Regions from separate parts of the Homo sapiens genome. Here region 2 is linked to region 1. The links come from fine-mapping of genetic effects on gene expression. A gene starts in region 1. The other region holds a variant in brackets. All regions are shown on one strand. Distances are from middle to middle. Region 1 holds the start of HIC1 (HIC ZBTB transcriptional repressor 1). Region 2 holds the start of SMG6-AS1 (SMG6 antisense RNA 1).

What was found.
Region 2: its variant is fine-mapped to the expression of HIC1 in whole blood (TOPMed, PIP 0.91).

The regions. Positions count from the first base shown.
Region 1 is chr17:2,052,757-2,057,133 of GRCh38, forward strand. It overlaps HIC1 (HIC ZBTB transcriptional repressor 1), which reads left to right and starts at 2,347. Exons shown (of 2, transcript NM_006497.4): 1 at 2,347-2,482; 2 at 3,915-4,377. The coding sequence starts at 3,935. RefSeq lists silencers at 911-1,380, 2,131-2,630, 2,771-2,820, 2,861-3,270, 3,321-3,440 and 2 more.
Region 2 is chr17:2,089,085-2,093,461 of GRCh38, forward strand. All of the region lies in intron 13 of SMG6 (SMG6 nonsense mediated mRNA decay factor), which reads right to left. SMG6-AS1 (SMG6 antisense RNA 1) reads left to right here and starts at 654. Exons shown (of 2, transcript NR_199038.1): 1 at 654-685. RefSeq lists enhancers at 266-445, 456-555, 576-675, 706-785. The variant C/T (reference allele first, on the strand shown) is at 2,655.

The sequences.
Region 1 (4,377 bases):
TCCCTTACAGAAGCAATGAGGGCTTGAGGAGGGGGTTAGGGGCCTGGGCTGGGGCAGGGCTGTGAGACCCTCCCTTACAGAAGCAATGAGGGCTTGAGGATGGGGTTAGGGGCCTGGGCTGGGGCAGGGCTGTGAGACCCTCCCTTACAGAAGCAATGAGGGCTTGAGGATGGGGTTAGGGGCCTGGGCTGGGGCAGGGCTGTGAGACCCTCCCTTACAGAAGCAATGAGGGCTTGAGGATGGGGTTAGGGGCCTGGGCTGGGGCAGGGCTGTGAGACCCTCCCTTACAGAAGCAATGAGGGCTTGAGGATGGGGTTAGGGGCAGTAAGTTAACTTGGGGAGCGGATGTGGGGGAACGCTGAAGAATAAAGACTGTGGGCACAGCAGACCCCTGGGGCAGGTTAGCAATGCACAGACTCCACTGCACAAGATACATGGGGCGGAGGGGCTCTTTGGAAGTCGGGGGTGGGGGATCTGACTCTATCAAAAAGAGAAAAGATAAAAGAGATGGGGTCAGAGAGGCCCTGCATAGTCTGGATTTGGCCTACTAGAGCTCCAGTTTTCTTGCCGCTAGCCTTTGTTCCAGGGATTCTGTTATTCACAAATGCCTTCCTGCTCGGTAGAAGAACTCCTATTCATCCGTCAAAGCCCAGCTCTAGGAGCACTTATGAGGAGCCTCTCCACCTCCCCTCAACACTCCGTAACTTCCACCTCAGGCCGCAGCACGTCCCTCGGGCGAGATGTCGGGGTCCGCCTTCCCTAGAGACCGGCAGCTCCGGAGGCCTCCGTTTTCCTCTTTGGGACCTCACTGCTTCTAAAGTGAGGATGCTATGGGGAGACATGGGAGAGGGAGTGGGTAAGATGGATCCAGAACATGGGGCGGACTCAGGCAGCGGCGGGAATCAGGCGGACTCGTTTGGACCGAAGCCTCCGCCAGGCACCGAAGCCGTGAAGTCGCCTGCGCAGCAAAGGGAGCCTCCGGGGGGCGCCCGAGACCTTGGTGTCGCTCGGGGGCCGCTGGTAGCCGCGCCCGCTGCCCCTCGCCCGGTGACTCAGCCGGTACCTCTGGCGGGGCCATGGGGGCCAGAGGACAGCGCGGGGGGCGGCGAGCGCGGTTGCTAAGCTCTCCAAGGCCTCGGAGGGACAGGATCTGGGCGCACCTCACCGGTTGCCATGGTAACGCAGCGCCCCAGCCCCTCGCGCTCCGCGGTGGAGGGAGGCGCAGCCAATCGGAAGCGGCGGAGTTCTCGGGGACCCCCCCCCCCCCCGCTCCACGCCGTGTGTGGGCGGGGGTCAGGAGGTGCGGGGCGGAGGCGGAGCGTGGGCCGCGGAGATCCGGCGTTCGCAGGAGGCTTGGTGCGCGGCGGGGCTGCACGGGGCCACTTCCGGAGTAGTACTGCGAGCAGCGGCGCGACAGTGCGGGGTCCCCTTTCTCCCAGAAGAGACGTCACCCACACAAACCTGACCTTCACGTGGGGCGCGGGACCTTGCGGGGTCCCAGCCGCAGGCGCCCCTGTTGTTTCCTTCGGGCGGGTGGGTTGGAGAAGAAGTCCACGCGGGATTCTTCAAAACGGCGTACAGGGGGATTCTAGGGCCCCATGGTTACTTCTTTGGACCCCCCGGAGGCGCTGTCCAGCCACTTCCAGTCGCCCTGATGACTCGTCGTGGGTTCCTTTAGGAGACCCGAAAGTTCAGGGCGGGCTGTGTGGGTAACACCTCTGCCCAGGTTCCCGGAGGGCCCTACGTGGCTGCCCCTGGAGTATCCCAGAGCGCTAGGGCTGCGGGAAGGGGCGGGTGTGCTTCTGGAAACATGAGCGCCTGTTAGTATCAGTGCCTGGATAGGGCTGGGGACAAATCAGTTTATGCCGCGCACACCGAATCCATGCGCCTGAGTGAGGGTGGGTGTGTTGGGGAGTGCGTCCAAGTGGACAGTGCCGTACAGTAATGTCTACGGGGAGTTCCAGGAGAGCTCGGCTACTCCTGCGCAGGATAACCTCTCCCCCACCACCCGAGTCCCGTGCTCGCGGGCAGGACTTTTCCGAACTGGGGCTGTGTGCCTAGAAATACGTACATGGGAGCGCTCAGCTCAAAGCCCCAGGGTTTCTGGGACTCGCGTGTCCGGGGTCGGGGTCCCAGGTGGGTACAGGTGGGAGGGCGAACCTGCGGGTAGGGTGGGCCCCTCCCCGCGGGCTCAGCATCTGTGCGCCTCCAGCTCAGGTGCGCGGGAGGAAGGCAGCGGCCTGCCGCGCAGAGCCCTGCGCGCCCGCGAGGTGGCGCCATAGCCGCAGCAGCGCCCGCCGGCCCGGGCCGCTCCAGATAAGAGTGTGCGGAAAGCGCGGCGGGGCTGAGACGCGACCAGGACGCGGGGAGGACGGACCAGCAGGACAGACCGACCGGGGGCCCGGCGGGCGGAGGGCAGCGCAGCCACGTCCCCCCTGGATCCGCCGTCAGCCGGGCCCGGGGCTTTCGACATGCCCCCCAGGTGGGTCCTCGAGCCGGGGACCGGGAGGGACGGGGGACCCGGGACAGCCCGGTCCTCGTGCGTCGGCCGCCTCGGGTGCATCTTCTGGCGCGGGTGCCCCATCGCGGCTGGCGGCTGGCGTTCAGGGCTCCGGGTGTCGTCCCTTTCGGACTCAGGACCACCGGGCCGCGGCTCCGCGCCGGGTTCACGGCGGGGTCAGCGGCCCGGGGCCGGCTCTGCCCGCACATGGGCTGGAGAGGCGAGGGGAAGGGAAGGGAAGGGGAGCTGGCGGGCGGGGCTGGCAGGGGCGCTGCCCTGGCACAGCTCGGGGCCTGGCAGCGGCGGGTGGGGCATCGGCTAAGAGCTGCCACCGCCGCGGGGAGGGGAGCCCGGCCCGCCGGGACCGCAGGTAACGGGCCGCGGGGCCCCGCGGGCCAGGAGGGGAACGGGGTCGGGCGGGCGAGCAGCGGGCAGGGGAGCTCAGGGCTCGGCTCCGGGCTCTGCCGCCGGATTTGGGGGCCGCGAGGAAGAGCTGCGAGCCGAGGGCCTGGGGCCGGCGCACTCCTCCCGCCCTGTCTGCAGTTGGAAAACTTTTCCCCAAGTTTGGGGCGGCGGAGTTCCGGGGGAGAAGGGGCCGGGGGAGCCGCGGAGGGAGGCGCCGGGCCCGCGCGTGTAGGGCCCAGGCCGAGGCCGGGACGCGGGTGGGGCGCAGGCCCGGGTCAGGGCCGCAGCCGGCTGTGCGCCGTGCCCGCCCGGGGCGCTGCCCCCTCCCTCCCCTGGGAGCTGCGTGGCTCCCCCCTCCCCCCCACCTGCTTCCTGCCTCAGCCTCCTGCCCCGATATAACGCCCTCCCCGCGCCGGGCCCGGCCTTCGCGCTCTGCCCGCCACGGCAGCCGCTGCCTCCGCTCCCCGCGCGGCCGCCGCCCGGGCCCCGACCGAGGGTTGACAGCCCCCGGCCAGGGCGGCGCCAGGGCGGGCACCGCGCTCCCCTCCTCCGTATCACTTCCCCCAACTGGGGCAACTTCTCCCGAGGCGGGAGGCGCTGGTTCCTCGGCTCCCTTTCTCCCTACTTGGGTAAAGTTCTCCGCCCTGAATGACTTTTCCTGAAGCGGACATTTTACTTAAATCGGGTAACTGTCTCCAAAAGGGTCACTGCGCCTGAACAGTTTTCTTCTCGGAAGCCCCAGCACCCAGCCAGGTGCCCTGGGGCGTGCAGGCCGCCCTGGCCTCCCCTCCACCGGCGGCCGCTCACCTCCTGCTCCTTCTCCTGGTCCGGGCGGGCCGGCCTGGGCTCCCACTCCAGAGGGCAGCCGGTCCTTCGCCGGTGCCCAGGCCGCAGGGCTGATGCCCCCGCTCAGCTGAGGGAAGGGGAAGTGGAGGGGAGAAGTGCCGGGCTGGGGCCAGGCGGCCAGGGCGCCGCACGGCTCTCACCCGGCCGGTGTGTGTCCCCGCAGGAGAGTGTGCTGGGCAGACGATGCTGGACACGATGGAGGCGCCCGGCCACTCCAGGCAGCTGCTGCTGCAGCTCAACAACCAGCGCACCAAGGGCTTCTTGTGCGACGTGATCATCGTGGTGCAGAACGCCCTCTTCCGCGCGCACAAGAACGTGCTGGCGGCCAGCAGCGCCTACCTCAAGTCCCTGGTGGTGCATGACAACCTGCTCAACCTGGACCATGACATGGTGAGCCCGGCCGTGTTCCGCCTGGTGCTGGACTTCATCTACACCGGCCGCCTGGCTGACGGCGCAGAGGCGGCTGCGGCCGCGGCCGTGGCCCCGGGGGCTGAGCCGAGCCTGGGCGCCGTGCTGGCCGCCGCCAGCTACCTGCAGATCCCCGACCTCGTGGCGCTGTGCAAGAAACGCCTCAAGCGCCACGGCAAGTACTGCCACCTGCGGGGCGGCGGCGGCGGCGGCGGCGG
Region 2 (4,377 bases), 36 kb after region 1:
GGTTAAAGCTGGACTCCCTGCTTGGAGAGGAAGGACTCCAGATGAAGTCTGTGACATCATCCCCACAGTTAACTCTGCTCGTGAGCACATTTTTCCACTCTATATCAATGAAAACCAGAGAATGTAAGTGGCATGTATATCGCAGCTCTGGGGGCAAACTCTGGATCCTCCAGAGGAGAAAGAGCTGGGCGGGAGAGGCTCCCTTCCTGGGCTACATTAGCACGTGGGGCTGGACTGGGGATAGAGGCGACTAAAAGGGCCGCCAGCCAGGGAACACCCTGGGGAGCCTACGGACCTCTCCTCTGCGGTGTACCTTCTCAGTCACAGTCCTGACCCTTCTGGAGGGAGATGCACTGTGTAGGCGATTGTCAAGAATTCCCAAGTTAATTGACAAAATATCACATACAAATCATTTCAATCAGCTTGGGAAAGAAAACTGGGGCTTTAGGTCAGGGAAGAGCTGAAAGAAAGCCCCTTTCCCTTCCCCTGAAGATTGTCGGAGGCAGCTTACCACTGCAGCAGGAACTGAAACCTTTAGCTTTAGGGCTCCAGTTATCACTCTAATCAAGTCCACACGCAAAGAACCAAGCAGAAAGGAAAACTGAAAGTGAGATGTGGAGAGGCGATACCGGAGGCTGTTCTCTCCTAGGCTCAGTTCCTTAGAGAGAGATAATGTAAGCATCGGGTAAGTAGGGGCTGGAGCCAAGGGGAGCGAGGAACAAAGGAGAAAACCTCTAGGTCAAGAGAGTAGACTGGGTTACTGTTCTGGGGTATTTAAGGTGGAGAGGTGGAGAAGTAAAGAAAAATGGTGTTTCTTGACTGGGCACGGTAGCTCACGAATGTCATGTCAGCACTTTGGGAGGCCAAGGTGGGCAGATCACCTGAGGTCAGGAGTTCAAGACCAGCCTGGACAACATGGTGAAACCCCATCTCTACTAAAAATACAAAAATCAGCCGGGTGTGGTAGTACATGTGGTAGTCCCAGCTACTAGGGAGGCTGAGGCAGGAGAATCGCTTGAATCTGGGAGGTGGAGGTTGCAGTGAGCCGAGATTGCACCACCGCACTCCAGCCCAGGCAACAAGGCGAGACTCTGTCTCAAAAAAAAAAAAAAAAAAAAGGAAAGAAGAAAAAATGGTGTTCTCTGAAAACTGGTGACTCTTCACAGCCACTCGGTAGGGAACAAGCACAGTGTGGGTAGAGATGCCCGGCGGGGGAGGGGGGTTGGGGAGAGAAAACGAGCTATATGCTGCTTTATGAAGGTAGGGAGGGTAAGAGAGAACGGGAACTAAGCACCAGGTATCACATACTCATGTGCTCTGAGTTGCAAGACTTAACACCTCAGGGCAGCCCCGGGGAAGGGAGAAAACCTCCAAATCTAGCCAGGGAATATGAGGAAGGGCTGGAGAGCCAGGACCCTGGATGCAAGCTCTAGGGAGTGAGGGACTCGCTCTATCGTTACCTGGTCCCCGTTTTCTCCAAACAGGCTTCTTGGAAGGCACAACCATGGTTACTAGTCATTTTGCAAAATTTCTTTTTCTGAATTTTTGGTTTGGAGAAATCGGAGTTTAAACTTGTACTATCAGCCAGTTCTTTTTTCTAGTCTTAACAGTCCAGCTTGCTACTGCTCCTCTGGTTAAAGAGAACAATCACACGGGTTTCCCCCCACAAACTCAAGTTTACAGGTTGTTTTTCTTGTTTCTCTAAATGGAGCCAATTATTCTCACATTTGTTGAAACCTTCAATCAAACTTTATAGCTTGTTAATTTTACAGAATGTCCTTAGAGCAAATAAGATGCAGACAGGAACATGAAGTCTTTCTGAGATTATTAAGAAACCTTAAAATAGCCTACAAATCCAACACCAAGGCTGGTAAAATACAGGCTGCTTGGCTGGCTTCTGAGGTCAATTAGCAATGGGTTAATTATCATCTTTAATGAGCCAAACCTCCAGGATTGGCCACAAGAAATTTAACTCAGACTAATGTGTTTTCACAAACTGGGAACCTCTAGTTATGCACTACTCACCCTCAGAGGAAACTGAAGGGTGGGAAGCTCAATTCTGTAGCAGCCAAGGGTGGGCCAGCCTACGAAGGGGTCTGCCAATGGAAGTTCAGACACAAGAAATAAAAAATACCACACAGGGAATCCTCTGGAGCTGGGAGGACAGAGGAAATGGTTTATTCACATTCCTAGGGGGAGGGGCCTCCTGGCAGGAAGCAGACTCCAGAAGGCAGGAGCGAAACTGGCCACAAGGATGCACAGTCAGTCTGAAGACACAGGCAGTAGCTTAGGATGGGGAGACAGACATTCACAGCCTACTTGAGTCAGAAGAAGTTGGTATGAAATTGAGAAAGAGGCTCATGGGTCAGAGAGGAGGGAAAGAAAGAACCTGTGCAGGGGCTGAATGATAAGGGGGACAGAGTGAGAAAAAGCACACATCCTTGGACCAGATGCATCTCCTGACAACCTCGGAGCATACTGTCCAAGGGATCAATTCAAACAGTATTTCACTCTTTCCCTACCCCTGCTATAGCTGGGCCTCTTTCTATGTAAAGCGTTAAGTACAGGCTACTTTCTCAGTCTTTTTGCTTTTTTTTTTTTTTTGAGAGAGAGTCTCGCTCTGTTGCCCAGGCTGGAGTGCAGTGGTGCGATCT[C/T]GGCTCACTGCAAGCTCTGCCTCCCGCGTTCACGCCATTCTCCTACCTCAGCCTCCCGAGTAGCTGGGACTACAGGCACCCGCCACCACGCCCAGCTAATTTTGTGTGTGTGTGTGTTTTTTTTTAGTAGAGACGAGGTTTCACCGTGTTAGCCAGGACGGTCTTGATCTCCTGACCTCGTGATCCGCCCGCCTTGGCCAACCAAAGTGCTGGGATTACAGGCGTGAGCCACTGCGCCTGGCCCCTTTTTCTTTTTTTTTTTTTGAGACAGAGTCTTGCTCAGTCACCCAAGCTGGAGTTGCACTGGCATGATCTCAGCTCACTGCAACCTCCGCCTCCCGGGTTGAAGCGATTCTCCTGCCTCAGCCTCCTGAGTAGCTGGGATTACAGGTGCGCACTACCATGCCTGGCTAATTTATGTATTTTCAGTAGAGACGGGGTTTCGCCATGTTGGCCAGGCTGGTCTCGAACGCCTGACCTCAAGTGATCCACCGCGCCCGGCCTTTCTCAGTCATTTCTAATCCCGGTGTCCAGATCCAACCCTCCGTAGTCCTATGGTTGGCCTGTGCTAGCTGAAGGGTCATTGGGTCACAAGATGAAATGCTAACATCATTGGTCCACCCACAGCAACCACACCATTCCATGTGTCTGGTCCCAACAGCTGTGTTTTCTTCTTAGAGGAGGCAATGAGGGCCATTATCAATCAGCCAGCATTGCACAGATGCCTGCTGTCCCCACCTGTAACCACCAGGTGTGTGCTGAAGTCTCTTAGAGAAGGGGAGGTGGGAACTGGCAAATGGTCAGATGGCAAGACCTGGTGCTGGTGGGGAGACTATCCCAAGACAGGGTTACTGAAGATCCCAAAAGGTACACGTATATTTGGCTACTAGGAAGGAGACGATGTTCACACTGAAGGGAGAACCAGGGGAACAGGGGAGTTGTGAAGCACACACAGGAAGTAATGAGGTAAATAAAGTATAAAAAACAGGGCCATTCTGGCAAGAGGCAAGACAAGGCAATACAGGAGGTTGGACAAGAGCCTGGGCTTCATAGTTACACAGACGTGAGTTCAAGTACTAACTGCCACTTCCTGGCTGTTTATCCTTAGACAAGTTACTTAACCTCTCTGAGCCTTTGTTTGCTCAAGTTGTTTGTGAGGTTTAAAAGATAATACAGGCCGGGTGCAGTGGCTCATGCCTGTAATCGCAGCACTTGGGGAGGCTGAGGCAGTGGATCACCTGCGGTCAGGAGTCCGAGATCAGCCCGGCCAACATGGTGAAACCCCATCTCTACTAAAAATACAAAAATTAGCTGGGTTAGTAGCGGGCTCCTGTAATTCCAGCTACTCAAGAGGCTGAGGCAGGAGAATCTATTGAACCCAGGAAGTGGAGGTTACAGTGAGCTCAGATCGTTCTATTGCAATCCAGCCTGGGTGACAGAGCAAGACTCTGTTGCAAAAAAAAAAAAAAAGATAAGACAAGCCTGGGCAACATAGTGAGACTGTGTCTGTCAAAAACAAACAAACAAACAAAAAAGCTGGGCATGGTGGTGCAACACACCTATGGTCCGAGCTAACTAGGAGGCTGAGGTAGGAGGATTGCTTGAGCCGGGGAAGTCAGAGCTGCAGTGAGCCATGAGCACGCCACTGCACTCTAGCCAGGGTGACAGAGTGATATCGTGACTCAAAAAGAAAAAAAAAGACAGAGGGAATACATATCAAATA